2 separate regions of the Homo sapiens genome follow, and region 1 is linked to region 2. Evidence: fine-mapped expression QTL. A gene starts in region 2. The other region holds a variant in brackets. All regions are shown on one strand. Distances are between the middles of the regions.

What was found. PIP is the estimated chance that this variant, and not a neighbour inherited with it, causes the effect.
Region 1: its variant is fine-mapped to the expression of TANK in whole blood (INTERVAL, PIP 0.97).

The regions. Positions count from the first base shown.
Region 1 is chr2:161,122,375-161,130,724 of GRCh38, forward strand. The region is part of intron 2 of TANK-AS1 (TANK antisense RNA 1); the gene reads right to left. Among named protein-coding and RNA genes, the nearest start is that of TANK-AS1, 34 kb to the right of the region's middle. The variant C/CCACA (reference allele first, on the strand shown) is at 4,503.
Region 2 is chr2:161,156,785-161,165,134 of GRCh38, forward strand. TANK (TRAF family member associated NFKB activator) reads left to right here and starts at 3,644. Exons shown (of 8, transcript NM_001199135.3): 1 at 3,644-3,702. It overlaps TANK-AS1 (TANK antisense RNA 1), which reads right to left and starts at 3,506. Exons shown (of 3, transcript NR_187173.1): 1 at 3,348-3,506; 2 at 2,381-2,452. RefSeq lists enhancers at 3,354-4,117, 7,538-7,707.

The DNA of each region.
Region 1 (8,350 bases), 34 kb before region 2:
TCCCCATTGTTATATCGCCGGATAGTGTGTGGCTTCAATCAGAACTTCCAAAATATTTGGATTTTATGAACTAGGTAATATTTTCAAAAACAATTTGGGGACTGATATAAGATTGCTAATCTTTAATTAGCTAAGCAAAGATATAAAAACAAATAACTACCATCCATTAACAGTGTTGTTTTATTTTTTAAAAGCACATGTTAATACCAAAACATAACTAGGAGGGAACTAATCTCATAATAAAAAGCAGTTCCTTAAAAGTGAATAAATTTAGCTTTATAGGAAAAATCACTACACTAGCCTTATCCTTCTCATTTCACCTAGTCTGATAAAAACTTCATCATAAACAATAGTCCATACACTCCACTTTAGGTACTACTGTAGGCTTAAGTAACAGGAGGAACTTTTGATAGCAAGTAATATTTTCTTCATCAATAACTAAGACTAGGGTCTTTGTGCAGGGAATGAATCTGGTTTGAAAATCAGTACCAACCTAAACCACTTCCAGGTTTATCATCCTTTCCATGCTCTCTGCAGTAGACACGAGCTGTTCCTAGAAGGCTGATTTCTATTTGCCCCATCCCAGCTTCCTTCTCCTACCTGTTGGTCCATATTGATAGGTTCTATGATATCCTAGTTATGACAATCCTCTTTCCTCTGTATTGAGGAAATGCCAGCCCTAAACAAGAGAACTTTGTTTTATCAGTTTTTCCAGAATATGAATGTTTGATTCCCACCAAGTTGCCACTGATTACTTTACATGGTATGGGCTGCATTTATGAGCAGCCCACACAGGATAAGTATCCAGAAAAGAAACAAGTTCCTGAGTCGCTGTCAGGATTTAATTCTGTAATCACTTTTAAGAAGTTGTGTTGGATTTGTAGAGAAGGCAAAACTCTGTTTTCCTATGCTTTGAAACTGGCTTCAATGACAATAAAGAAGAAACCAAAGAAAATGCTTTTGAAATTAGAGAAATAAAAACTTCTGAAATCTTTACGAGTAGGCAAGCTGTGAAAGCAGTGGCAGGGTGCTTCCTGCTGAGTCATGAAATGGAATGATTCATAGTCAAGCAATTCAAGGCCACAGACAACAGAACTCAAGCAAGGGAGTAGCAGGAATCAAGCCCAGATTGTAAATCCAGGATTGGAAACATAATTGAAATCAGGAGTAAAGCAGAAATATCACAGGAACACAGGCTGTTTGAGTCTGGTGGACATGCCAAAATTAGGAAAATGGTAGAACAGAATTAGGTCATTATTTGAGGATCGGGAACACAGACCAGAGATAGATGGATGCTAAGTGAAGCCCCTTGATTCAGGCTTCCTGGGAAAGAAGGCCTAAGAGACCTTAAGTAGATCTCTTGGAAATCTTTGTCAGCCCTACCTACAAAATTACTCCCATTTACCCAGTCTATCCACTCGCCTGTCTGGGAGCCACCCTGAAAGAATGATGAATGTCTCTGAGACTAATTCTACACACCAAACTGGTCCAACCACATTGACTGAAGCAATAGTTTGAGAAAACAAGTCCACAAATCAAACCTTCTTGTTCTGTCTATAGATATAACCTGAATCTAAACTTTGAGTTTAAATTGTCTCAGTAGTAAAATTACTGATGCATATAGCAGTATATACAGGCTTTTTTCTGTTGCTTCTGATTTTCATCAGAAACCCTAGAACAGAGAAGATTAAGAACACACATTATGAATTTAAGAAGCCACCCAAACAGCTGATCTAGAAATTCAAATAGCACAGATAAAAGGCAGTGGTGAGAAAAGAAATTAAGTGCTTTCTGCATATATCATGCTTAGTTCATCCAATGCTATGGGCTAAAGTGAGTCCCACCAAATTCGTGTGTTCAAGCCCTAACCCCCCTAACCTCAGAAAATGTTTTGGGAGATAGAACTTTTAAAGAGATGATCAAGTTAAAATGGGGCCACTAGGATAGGCTATAATCTAATCAGACTGGTGTGCTTATAAGAGGAAATTTAGCCACACACAGTCACAAGGGACCTGCCTGTACAGGGGAACCACCCTGTGAAGGAGAAGAAGAGAATAGCTAACTGCAGGCCAAGGAGACAGGCCTGGAATGGGTTTGTTCCTCAAGGCCTTTAGAGGGAATCAACCTTGCCAGCAATTTAATTTTGAACCTCCAGCCTCTAGAACTGTGAGAAAATAAATTTCTGTTGTTTAGGCCCGCTGATCAGTGGCATTTTGTTATGGCAGCTCTAGCAGATAGCACATCAAATAAACTGGTTAATGGAAGGGGAAAAAAATTCTGCTACTTATAAGTTTAAGTGCTCTATATCTTATAGCTGCACAAACTTTCTGAACCATACCCCTAACAAATTTTAAATTAACCTAAAAAGTCAATTTAGAATTCTGTGTCTTTTATAAAGTTTTAACATCTTTCAAGAAGAGGAAATAAACTTTCATTATCTTCAAATGTTCTTTCACATAAAGTCTGAAGTTTGTAGCCTGTTCCTACATCTTATCATGTCAGAAATAGAAACAATTTTTCTTCCTACATAAAGTAAACTTTCCTCATTAACATAAACATATGTTCAGACAAGAGCATATTCAGGGTTTTACCATGTTTCAGTGGATAGAAAATAAGAGAATACTCTGAGAGCTCATTAAGATGGTTTGATACTATTTGTCGAAAGTTTCAAGAGAGAATGTTGATTAAAATACAGGGAGTCAGTTAAAGTCCTCTCCTCAGCCTCTTGGGGTAATTTATCACCTTCAATCATCTTAAAGTTTAATAGCCAATAACAGTATAATAGTTCTCATTCATGAGGTAGTTATATTTTAACTGGGGTCAAAGCATTATATTACAAATAAAGATCTAACCTATTTCAGACATCATTCAAGGAAGATTTGAGGAGCCCCAAGATGTTGGTGGGGACTACACCTGTAAAGACATTTTATAGTTAACATCTGCTTCACTGACCTTCATATAATGTAAGTAATATACTTAAACAAAGCTACTGCTGAATGTTGACATAACAGGGTATAATGAAAACTTATCCCCTGCATTCAAAAGTGTGCCAGCTAAGTATGTATTGCATCCCAGCTTCAAAGCCACCTTTTATTGGCTGCTTGGCAAAAATGAAGCTGGAATGTTGAAATATTTCTTCTTTGCAGTGACAACAGTGTCAAGCTTTGTCTGTATACGGAGGTGGAGAAACACTACAAGAGGAATAGGGCTCCTCTTCCTGGTTCTGGTGTTTTCTATTTTCTTCTTGTTCCTATCTCATGGCTACCAACTGTGCATGTAAGGTTGCTCTAGTGACACCCCATCAAGTTGCAGTGGCATACATACTGATGGCTCCTCATCGAGTTGCAGTGGCATTCCTATTGACAGCTTCCCGATGAATCTCACAGGTGTCCCGAAAGTCAGCTTCCCAGCCTTGGCCCACGTGCACTTTGGAGGGGTGGTTTACTCATTGCCCAGCATCTGTGGACCAGTTCTGGCCTGGGCAACCAAGCACACTTCTCTGGAATCTCCTGGTCTACAACCACACCTTTTCCACTGTGGTCTGAATTCCGGCCTTAGGAAAGAGGTTCTCTTTCCCACATTTGTTCCTTCTTTAGATACCCTCCCTGAGCCCCAGATATCCTTTTGAGTATCTTTACTCCTTTATAGATCAGCACCTGGTATAGTTAATAGTTATTTATACTAAACTTTCCCTGTTCTAATTACTATCTGATTTTGTCTCCTGATTGAACCTTGACTGGTATAAGAGGGGTTGGGGAAAAAGGCCTTCATTCCTAAGGAATAAACTTTCCAAGCACTTATTTAAAAAACCCAAAGTATGCAAAGAACCAGAAGATAGTTTGCCCTTCTGCCAGAGTAGTCTATTTCAAATGACTCTAATATCCTGACTATAACAAATGACATAGAAAAAAACCAGTGAGCATTCAAATCCAAGAAAGATAGTTTCTCATATTAAACCCTCAACCAAAAAATCAAATAAAACAAAACCCTTAAACTAAAAATTCAAACTGAAATATACAAGGGACTTAATCAACTGTTAATCTGCAGTATGGTACCCAAATGAATATGTTCTGTGTTCAGTTTAAAAATTATCTGGAGGAAGCAGGGAAAAGGAGCCTGACTAGCTAGACTTTATACATCTGTTCTCTGCAAAAATATTATCTCAAACTAAGCCAGGTGCAGTGATGCATGCCTGTAGTCCCATCTACCCAGGAGGCTAAATAGGGGATTGCTTGAGTCCAGGAGTTCAAGGCTGCAGTAAGCTATGATCATACTTGATAATGGTCACTGCACAGCAGCCCAGAGTTTATAGATTATCCTTTCCATCTCTCCCTCTATTCCTTTCTCCTCTCTTATTTCTTTCTCACTGTCATTGGGTCTTAGACGTTAGATAGGTTAACATTTGTTATCTTCCTCATTTATAGAGAATTACAAGTATGAACTATTAATCCTGCTATTAGAAATTGTATCAGTACTAATAGAGAGACCTCCATCTCAAAAAG[C/CCACA]CACACACACACACACACACACACACACACACACACACACACACGTAATCACAAAATAGGCCAAAACAGGTCATGTTGGAAATGCAAGATCTGCAGCCATGATACTTTGCATATGTTATGCAGAGTCCCACACTTAGAGTGCTAATGATTGAGAGTCATGATACCTGTCTCACAGGCTTGTTGTAAAGATTAATACTGAGAGCAGTGTTTGACGTAGAGCAAATCTCCATAAAGGCTATTTGTTGTGGTTATTGTTGTATTCACGACTCCTTTTTGACCATATAGAGTATTACAGCAAGAAGATTTCAATTGCTAGTAACAGAAAATCCAACTCAAACTGGCTTAAACAATACGAGGGAACCTTGGGGATTACATAATTCAAAAGTCAAGAGGTAGAGGGAGCTTTAAAGTTGTTTGAGTTAGTGGTTCAGCAATATTATTAAAGACCCATGTTTTGACCAGGCACAGTGCCTCACACCTGTAATCCCAGCACTTTGGGAGGCCGAGGTAGATGGATCATTTGAGGCCAGGAGTTCAAGACCAGCCTGGGCAACATGGTGAAACCCCATCTCTACTAAAAATACAAACATTAGCCGGGCACAGTGGCATGCGCCTGTGCCCAGTTACTGTATCCCAGTTACTCAGGAGGTGGAGGCATGAGAATTGCTTGGACCCAGGAGGCAGAGGTTGCAGTGAGCTGAGATCATGCCACTGCCCTCCAGCCTGGGTGACAGAGCAAGACTACATCTCAAAGTAAATAAATTAATTAAAATTTTTAAAACACCAATTTTTTCCCCATCTCTCTTTTTGGCCATCTCGTGATGATGGTTTTATTCTGTAGTTGAAGACCCTTACAGCTTTAGGCTGTTTGTCAGCCTAAATAATGAAGGCTGTGCTTCACTTTTACTTTCAGCTCTGTAATCCAAGCAAGAGTCCTGGTATTCACCAAGGTTAGACTGGCTCGTGTCATGCACTCCACCCTCAGCCAATAACAAAAGTAGGAGAAATATAATGTACTGACTGGTTTGAGCCAGTCCTAGCCTACTCATGGACAGTGGTTGGAGTTTGCTTCCCAAACAGTACATAGGCTACAAGGGGAAAAAGGAAAAGGCAATATAGAAGTTGCATAGACAAACAAAAATGATCTTGCTTAAATAATTTAATTTCTCGCCATCTAGTTTTCCTGCAAAACTTGTATGAATTCACAATTTTTTTTTTTTTTTTTTTGAGACAGAGTCTTGCTCTGTCACCTAGGCTGGAGTGCAATGGTGTGATCTTGGCTCACTGCAACCTCCACCCTCCGGGTTCAAGCAATTCTCCTGCCTCAGCCTCCAGAGTAGCTGGGATTACAGGTGCCTGCCAGCATGCTCGGCTAATTTTTGTATTTTTTAGTAGAGACAGGGTTTCACCATGTTGGTCAGGCTGGTCTCGAACTCCTGACCTCAGGTGATCCACCTACCTCGACCTCCCAAAGTGGTGGGATTACAGGCATGAGCAACCATACCCAGCCAATTCACATTTTAATTTTACAGAGACAGTGAAGAAAAATACATCAATGAATAAAAAACAACAAAGAAACTCTCTTACATAGTCTTACCATGTGCTCAGGGTTTTAAATCCTTTACACATACTAATTCATTCAATTCTCAAAACTACCATAAGTTTTAGGCAAGACATTTGTCAAAGGTGAAGTCAGGATTTGGAATGTAGGCATTATGGCTCCAGCACCTATTTGCCTAACTCCTCTGCAGAGAGATGGATGTTACTTCTGACGTGCTCCAGAAAGTGCCGCTGGGCTTGGTTCTATGGCTCCCTCTCCCAAGAGCTGATCAGCATATTGCAATTGATGAATGAAGGGTTAAAGAATAAATAAATGAGACATGAGAAAGAGGTGTTTCTACAAAGTTTTTTTCCATCCAAACAATATTTTAAAATCTGAAACCCAATGATAAGAGAAGAATAAAACACACAGTTCTTTCACCAATTGAATAATTAGAAAAAGTTCACCAATTCCATCCCACTCAGCTTCCAAACCATAACAGCATCTTCAAATTATAATGCCAAAGGTGATCAAGTACTTTGAAGCCAGGATCTCTAATGCCAGTGAAAAACTGTCAAAATTATGAGTCAGCTGTTTGATATTTAGAAAATCAATTAATCTCTTTGGGTCCGTTTCCTGCTCTTTGAAGTGATTTAACTTAAAAAAATCTTTTAAAAATAGCATGTCTACGCACAGAATTACCTCTACACTTTTAGAACTACCTCAATCTTTCCTCCTCAAACAATAGCTTGTGATTTTACTTGAAACCCGTGTTTATTGGATATTTTATCATGGCTCTGGCATCCCACCAAATATGATCAAATTAAAAAGGAACTGAACTGGTAAAGCAAGGAATAAATAACACACAAGGAACTTTGAAATCTCTCTGCAAGCTTCAGCTAGTTAATCCTCCCAACATCCCCCTGGAGTCATGCTAAACAGTTTTCAAAGGTCAGATCTCATTGAGAATTTGACTTATTTTATTGAAGTAATAGAAAAACCCAGAGTTTATGGATTATTCTTTCCATCTCTCCCTCTATTCTCTTCTCCTCTTTGATTTCTTTCTCACCACCATTGTGTCTTAGAGGTTACAGACAGGCTGACATTTTTTATCTTTCTCATTTATAGATAATTACAAGTATGAACTATTATTATTAATCCTACTAATATTAGTAATTGTATCAGTACTAAATTACTGTGTTCTCACATAGAAAATTATTGATGACAGGCATCTCATAGCAATTTCAATTTCATGAATTTATAATTCCAAAAGAAATATATTTCAGGTAATGCAAATTTGTTTTCTACAATTTATATATTCCTTACCTCTTTGAGGGGAGTTCAGTAATTTCTATTTTATCCTAATATCAAAACCACTTTTCTAGGTTTCTCAGTTTAGAAAGAAAATGCCTGTGAGGCTCATTCTTTTGGCTGGTGTTTCTCATCAACTTTAGAAAAGAGAAATCCCAGTGCATAGATCAAAATAGAAAGGTTAATTGGTAATAAACTAAATGTATTGCTATCTTGGCCAATAAAACAGAAAGTAGAATGTATAATATCTAAAACAAATTCTTCAATGGTGAGATGTCTCATTTTCTGATTAAATTCTGTCAGCTTACAGAGACTTTTTATGGAAACTTAAATAGTTCACCTTGTACCCTGTAGAAAGTATCATGTATTTTTTATGAGACATATTAAGCTATACATAACAGATTAGAAAGGAAAAATGGAAGGATGAGTAAAACTGCAGAAACAAATGTGCATTATCATCTTCCTTGACTAATTGTATTGAATCTGCTCCCAGGTTGCCCTATTTTTCTAAATTGGCATTTGAAAAGAGACAGCATGTCTAATTTGCTCCTCCACTTCTCAACAAGAGCACCTGTGTTAGTCCGTTTGCGTACTGCATGAACAACTGCCCAAGACTGGGTAATTTATAAAGGAAAGAGGTTTAATTGACTTACGGTTCAGTATGGTTGGGGAAGCCTCATAAAATGTACAGTCATGGTAGAAGGTGAAGGGGAAAACAAAGCGCCTTCTTCGCCAGGGGGCAGGAAGGTGGCGTGCCAAGCGAAGAGGGAAGAGTCCCTTATAAAACCATTAGATCTCGTGAGAACTGACTATCACGAGAACAGCATGGGGGAAACCCCCACCCACCATGATTCAACTACCTCCATCTGGTCTCTTCCTTGACACGTGGGGATTATGGGGACACAAAGCCAATCATATCAGCACCTCTTCTGCATCACCCTCCTTTTCCCTTCCCATCCTCCTGCCATCTTCAATTATGCTATTCTTAACATGCCCA
Region 2 (8,350 bases):
AGATTCCTTACCTTTAATAGCTAGTTATTTTACTATAAAGAGAAGAATTCCTGGTTAATCAGAAACAATGATTTGTCTTTTTCTTGATAAGAACCATATATGAAAAAGTAAACCCCCAGAGAAACAAACACCCAGTTCTGTCTGCCCAACCCCTTTCATTATTAGTTTCCTAAGCTTGGACACAGAGCATTACACCTATCCACTCCCTTTGGGTTATTGCTGGTATTCTCTAGGCCGTAGCTCCAAAATGGGTCATAGAGTGGAGAAACTAATGGGAGAGATTAGGGCAAAGAGGTGTAAAATACTTCTTAGCCATCACACATAGTAGTGGAATTACTAGTAGGGGCCGTGAGGCAGGTAGCTTCCTTACTATCCTTCCATACCAACACCTTTGATTGCCTTCCAACAAAAAAGTACATGTCCATTTCAGCTTCACAGTTCTTGCAATAAGTCCAGTATCCTATCAAATTCTGGAACTAGGGTGCTTGTCAACAGGGTTATAGCTGCTCTTATGGTACTTTTCTGTGAGTTAGAAAAAGCACCTCTCTGAGAAGACACAGGCTGAAGGAGGCAAGGCTTTGCAACTGAGCACAGCCTGCTCAACCATACACAGTGGCCCTGGTTGTCAGTCTGCCTTCCAAGGCCATTGTGAGTTCTCATGTTTTTCTGATTTTTCATAGCCATTTTAGTTGGAGAGTCTGCAATATAATCAGCCAGTCCAGATGTCATCGTAAATCAGAAGTCAACCAGATTCCATTAATAGTGATATTGCACATCAAAGATTTGACTGAGAACATAACTGACATTCCAAGTCATAGTAACTGTTTATATTGCCAGGTTTCCTTGTCCTTAGGTTTATATTCAGAAGTCTCAATAAATTATTAAGCAGTTTTAAAACTAGGATTCAAAATATTTTTGAGACAGAGTCTCTCTCTGTTGCCCAGGCTGGAGTGCAGTGGCGTGATCTTGGCTCACTGAAATTTCTGCCTTCCGGGTTCAAGTGATCCTCCTGCCTCAGCCTCCCATATAGCTGGGATTACAGGTGTGCACCACCAAACCTGGCTAATTTTTGTATTTTCAGCAGAAACGGGTTTTCACCATGTTGGCCAGGCTGGTCTCAAACTCCTGACCTCAAGTGATCAGCCCGCCTTGGCCTCCCGAAGTGCTGGGATTACAGGCGTGAGCCACTGCACCCGTCCAGGTTCCAAAATATCTTTTAAAGGCCTGCAATTCCCTCATTTTCTTTTAATAATAATTCATTAATTAATATTATTAAATAGAGACGTGGTCTCACTATGTTGCCCAGGCTGGTCTGAAACTCCTGTGCTCAAGTGATCCTCTGCCCTTGGCCTCCCAAAGTGTTAGGATTATATGTGTGAGCACCACACCTGGTCAGTTCCCCATTTTCATGCCACCATACCCAACCTCCAAAGCCACATCACTGCTCACTAACTTGAGGTATATAATAATATGAGTGAAGGAAAATTGGAATAAAATTATGTCATTATTTTAAAAGATTATTCCTCAAATAAATGTCAACTCAATTTCTAACCTTTGTAAAACATACTGTATGTGAATTCTTAAAAAATCATCATTATAGGAAAAGGAAAATGTTTGATGCCATTTTAGCATTGATTACAAAATAATTCTACCAGCATTTATGCATATTTCACATACAGGGGAATTATGCAGCCACTTCTCTTCAAGACTACAACATCATGGAAGTGGAAAGAGAAAAATACGCATTTAAGAAATGTGTATATCTAGCTATTTCCTTATTCAAAGTTTTTAGCACCTCCATATTTCAAAATGCCTATGCATTCAGCTTTAGACTCTGAGTATATTACTAAATTCCACTATTTCAATCAGAAATCTTCAAATCAGCTTATTTAATTTGCTCAAGCAGTGCTGAATAAACTGGACTTCATCAAAATTAAGAATTTCTGCTTTGCAATAGATATTGTCAAGAGAGTAAAAAGACAAGCCACAGACAAGGAGAAAATTTTTTGCAAAAGACATATCTGATAAAGGACTTATCAAAAATACAAAGAACACTTAAAACTCAACATTTGGAAAACAACCTGATTAAAAAATGGGCCAAAGGCCTTTACCTCCCCAAAGAAGTTAACCAGATGGTAAATAAATAGCCATATGAAAAGATCCTCCACGTCATATGTCATCAGGGAAATGCAAATTAAAACAACAATAAAATATGACACACATCTATTAGAATGGCCAAAATCCAGAACACTTACAACACCAAATGCTGGCAAGGATTTGGAGCAACAGGAACTCTTATTCATTCCTGGTGGGAATGCAAAATGGTAGCCACTTTGGAAGACAATTTGGCAATTGCTTACAAAACTAAACATTCTCTTACCTTATGATCCAGCAATCATACTACTTGGTATTTATCCAAAGGAGATGAAAACTTATGTCCGCACAAAAAAACCTGCACACAGATATTTATAACAGCTTTTTTTCATCACACTGGGGTGAGGGATGTTGATAATGGGGAAGGGCTATGCTTGTGTCGGGGCAGAAAGTATATGGAAAATCTCTGGACATTCCTTTCCATTTTGCTGTGAATCTAAAACTGCCCTCAAAAAAAGTTTAAATAATTTTTTTAAAGCAGTACTGTATTGTGATGTTTAACTCAATTACTTATTACAAGAAAACTATTCAACTGGTCAAAACGTTATATATAAGAAGTTTCTGTTTGTTAAAAACATTGTTTCAAATATATTTAGGCTTTGACTTTTAAAAGTATACAGCAACATTCAAGATAACTAGACAGAATGCACTGCAACTTGGCAGGTTTTTAAATCCTTGGACTTACTGGCCTAAGGAAAGATGTGTAAACATCCATGATTCAGAAATACAGGGAGAAATTGGGGCAGCCAGACCTCATCCTCTTGCCCTAAAGGGAAAAGATATCTTTCTTGCGGTATCTAAGATATGAATCTTAGATAATATTCATGCATGGCTAGGAATTGGAATAATGGGAAAGTCTTAATTCATGGGAAATTTTCTAATAAAGTTCCACCTCCATTTCCAGCCATTCCTCTTTAACAAATACATTTAGTGAAAAATACTACCAGTTGGGGAGAAACCAAATGGGTATGTGTATATGTAGTGTTTCTCAGAGTGTGGACTTTAACCACGTTTAATTACATAAATTTACGAGGATCTGTTGAAAATGCAGGTTCCTGGGCTTCACTCCAGTTGCTCTGAAATGAAAGCTGTAGGAGTCGGTTGGTGAAACTACATTTTGTTTCTCAGGTGATTCTTGTGTACTCTAACTCATATATAGGGTGATGTTATTTATTTACTGGTTATTTATTTACCGGTTATTTATCGTTTGGCAAAAAAATCCAGCAAAGACTCACAAGTGACCTTTACACTTGACATAGGATTCTCTTCCGCTGCTGACGCTTTTTTTTTCTAAGAGGCGGGGACTTGGCTGGGCAGGGCTGGGGGAGGGCGCTAGGCGGGGCGGGCAGGGGCGGGGCAGAAGAGCCCTGGGCTGGGTGGGGCAGGGCGGAAGGGCCCTGGCCTTGTTGGGTGGAGGTGAAGAGTTAATGGCTCCGCGCGCAGGCACTGCCCTCTGAACTGGAACAAAATGCAACTTCCGGTTGGAGTCACTCGGCCAGGCGCCGGCGACCTGAGGGGAGAGGGAACGCAGCTGAAAGCGTGAACTGTGTGAGTAAGAAACTTTGTGAATTGGTGTGTCCGAATCCGTCAAGCACGACGTCGGAGAATTTGTATGCGTGAGCGAGAGGGACGCGCTGACAGTAGGGGCGCCGCAGGGAGAGAAGCCGAGGAGCAGCGGAGACAACCAATTTGCAGTTTGGGGAGGGATTTTGTGCGGGAGAAACCACGCGAGTCCTTCCCCCGGAGCGGACTCCTTGTGGGTTGGTTTCCGGGCCCGCGATGTCAGCATAGCATCGTCGGCCTCTGCCCCAACGGCTTCAAGGGAGGGACTCGTCCCGGCTGCTTTGCCCGGGAAATGGGGGTGGAAGGGCCTGCGGTGTCGAGGTGAGCAGTGGACCCTCCAGGAACATTCCCGACTTCCCTTCGGGAGAGAGACTGCCTCCTAGAATCAAGTAGTATCGTGGTTACTCTTTCGAAAACTTAATTGGTTCTTTCTGTTGTTTTCCCAAGGTGGTTGCACAATTCCCCTCTGCCTTCCTGTGGGGTGTCATCATAGCCTGGTCAATGAGAAGTTGGGTAACTTCCCAGAGGGTCACGGAGGGAGTGGGTGGCCAAGGCAGGAAGAACAGAAGCCAACCCCGCCCACAGTGGGAACCCAGGCGTTAGGTAGAGTCCTCACGCCGGTGTAAACTGACTAGCAACGAGTTACAGGCAAAAAAGCTGTGCTTTTCTAGAAGTAGAAAGGGGGAGGATAATCAAAGAAGAGCTGTGCCTTTATTGTTATGCTATAACGAGCAAAAGTAAAGCAGCCTTGCTATGTAAAGTGGTGTTTATCTCACCTCACAGGAGATGCTTTTGACAAGTTATAATAAGGGAGAGATGGTAGTAAAGGAAGTGAAGAAGCGACGTGAAATTGAAGGAAAAGAAAATGACCTGCCTTCTTACCGCGGTTGGAATACACACCCAAACGAGAGGTAGCAGAGAAGCAAGCAGTGCATTCTGTTAAAAATTATTGTGTCCTCATTTGAGAGAGGAGGGATCCTCAAATAATACAACTATGTGCAAAGCAGGAAGTGAAATCCTTCTCAGTCCTCTCCCCAGTTGTAATCCAAGCCTTCCACATCTTTCCTGTATGTGCATAACCATGTTATTTTGCTTTCTTATGAAAATGAGATTATGCATACTGTTCGATAATCTGTTTCAGATTAAATATATATATATGGTGAAAGTCTTGCCATATGTAGCTCTATTTTATTGTAATGTTGGCGTGGTACTGCATTGTGTAGATGTACCAAATTATAGTTAACTGTCACTTACTATGTCCTGTCCGTATATATTGCCCAGTATTCTTCAAAATTATCTGTTTCTCATTAGACTACAGATTTCATTAATCCTTTGTGAAATATATGGCAAATATTTTCAAGAATTATCAATGCTTTGGTTTAAAATGCCCAGGCTTTTTATCTCAGGTAAGAAGGTAGTCCCCACTCAAAAATTCTTAAAATCTTCTCCTATATTGCCTGTTAATTCTCTTTTTATGATTTACTCATTAAAACATCTGAAAATGATTTTTGTATGCTAAGATAAGGATTTAATTTTTTTCTTTGTTTTTATGACTAGGCAGCCATTTTTTCCTGAAATCATTTGTTGAAATCATTTCTCTCCCAACTGACTAGAAATACCTCCTTAATATAGTAAATTCTCAAGTGTACATGCATCTTTTCTTTAGACTCATCTGTTGCTTTGATCTTTTTGTCTCTTCCTTTAAAAATACCAATCTGCTTTGATATTACGTTTTCTAGTAATTCATAGGACAAGTCCCTCTTCATTTTTCCTTTTCAAAATTTTCTTGAATATAATTGCATTATCTTTGAGATAAAATTTAACATAAACTGTTCATGCTTCATTAAAATACTCTTTTTGGGATTTAACCATTATATTTTCTTATATTTTGTGACTGGTATGTAGATGAGTGTTTATGTATCTGGCCAACTTTCTAAATTTATTAATTTTAATAAATTGTTTCACTTGAATTTTCTAGGAAAACAATCATCTAATTATAATTCATCTTATCTCTTTCTTTCTTTGCTTTAGTGAATTGCTGGCTTCCCCAGAATAGTGGTAAATAAAACAGTGATTCTGGCCATCCTTTATCTTGTTTCTTAGTTTGGGGATGTTTTTATTATGTCATCATTAAATATGAAGTTACTATTAATATCTAATAAATTATATTTATCAGGGAAGTTTCCTTTAATATTTCTAGCTCATTGTGATTTTTGCAGAGAACTGTTTGGATTGCATCCAAAGTCATTTTTGCAACTGGGGATGGGGAGTGTCTATTGTATTAGATAGCACTTTGAGAACAATTTTAAATAATAGATATTGGATGTTCATTTGGTGTGTATATTCATTACTTCTTAACATTTTTATCAGGAATGGAAGTTGGATTTTGTCAAATGGCTTTTTGACATCTATCATAACCTTTCATAGGTACTTTTCATCTTTGACCTAACAGGATAGTGAATTACTTTAGTATATTTGCAGTTTGTGAACCAATCTTACGCTTGGTCATGGTGTAATATTTAAGTATATATTGGTTCCTTTGGTAGCATTTTTATTTAAAATCAATGATTGAGATTCATTTTATACTCACCTTTTTCTGTTATTTTTGCTAGGTTTTGGTATCAAGGTTATGCTGGTTCCTAAAAAGAACTGGGCAGAGTTCCTCTTCCTCCGCTCTGATGTAGTTTAAATAGCCTAAGAACTCTGCTCTTTGAAGATCTGAAAGAATTCACTCATGAAACCATGTGGGTCTGGGAGTTCATTGTTCTTAAGACAGCAACAATACTCAGCAAAATGGTTCAGAACAAACAAAAACTCCTTGGAGTAAATACAATTGAATGAAAGAGTCTGGGACACGGTAATGTCAAGAACTAAGAACAGCTGCTGTACTGATGCTGGTTATTTCCCCCCTACACACAACTTTTTTTTCATGGACAAGGAAAAATGCTGTAGGTAGGCTGAGGCTGTTAAGTAAAATGTCTTGCTATTCTTTCTCTTCTCTTCTTCAGTTATGTTACAGAAGCAAGGGTATTGCTTCTACATGGGCAAATTTGTCTATGCCCTGAAAGAAACCAAGAGTGAAACTCAACTGGGAAAGCATCAGTTTCACTTTATTGTCACTAGCTTCCCAATTTTGCCGGGAAATTTCTTAATTTAAAGGTAATAACCAAGCTGACATTTTACTGTAGCCAAATCCTACAGAGGGTTTCAAAATGAGTGGGTGAAAAAATATACAAGCTTAACATGCTTATACTTATTTAACATGAAGTGAAAATCATTAGCATAGTTCAGGTATGTGCATGGTATGTGCACGCACATGGGGCAGTGCTGTCATCTAACAGAAGCCCACCTTTTTACTTGACTAATGGTTTACTGTTAATACCTCGATAATAGTGTAATCTTTGATAGACTTTTATAAATGATTATTTCAAATGCTTTTTGATCACCTTCAAGAATATGACCTGAGACAGGTAATGTAATTTAGCAGTTTGCATCTATGAACTGTGGAGGATACCTACAGACACTGAAGCGTTACTAACAGTAGGATGCAGGCATTATGTGAATGCGTGGGTATTTTATTTCCATTTATGGGCTACTATAGCAAAAATAATTGGGGAGTTGCCCTATGATGAAAGAAGACTGCATGTTTTTTAAAACCATACCTTTGTCCAAAAGCAAATGGTAAATAAAAATAGACTGTTGACATAAAGCTTCGCTATTTCGATGCTATGCATTAGCTGATTGACTGTTACTGTTTATCCTTTTTGTTTTCTAACACCTTATAAGCATAAAATATTACTGTTTAATTGCAGTTCGTTTGTGTTCAGTTACGTAAAGCCTAGTTTTAGTTTCTATTTCCTGTAGGATTTATGCTGTGGCTGCCATTTCCCACCTGTTATCTCCTATGCTTGCTGCCATGGTTTTGAATCATAAATACAGGGAAAGAGGAGGCTATTATTTAGATATGTAACAAAAATCGCTTTATAGTTCGGAACCAAGATTATGATTATCTTCAGGAAGGGATAACAGAATATGAAATGAACTACCTTTTCAGTGAGTTGTTAATTAATTTTCAAAGTCTTTTGAACTAAGTGCAGTATTTGGTCACTGTTCAAATAAGTTGAGGGTAACTGGTACCAAGCCCTATGCAACTGAAAACAGGCTTTGGGACTTATGTAGTACATGTGTCACATTTTCCAATTCCTAATCTATAAAAGCTTTTTAAATTGTGGTAAAATTCACATAACATAAAATTTACCATCTTAACCTTTTTTTAAAGTATATGGTTCAATAATGTTAAGTGCATTCACATTGCTATGCAACCAAGAAAAACATTTTTAAAGGGACGTATTTTTCTTAAGGAAAAGAGTTTGGGAAGTAAATGATGGCAATTGTTTGTCTCATGGAAAATTTCCTGGACAGTAACTTTTTACCTTCAGAGATATATTCTCTATAAATGGTAATTATCAGTAGTAAGTTATGAGAGTAAACATTTTGAGTACTAGTGATCTATAATAGCTTTTACTTAACACCAATACTTTTTTTTTTTTTTTTTTTTTGCAAAAGGAAGGGTCTACTGAAAATAGGTTGCTAACATTGACAACAAAGTATTTTAAGTCATTGCAGTAAGGAA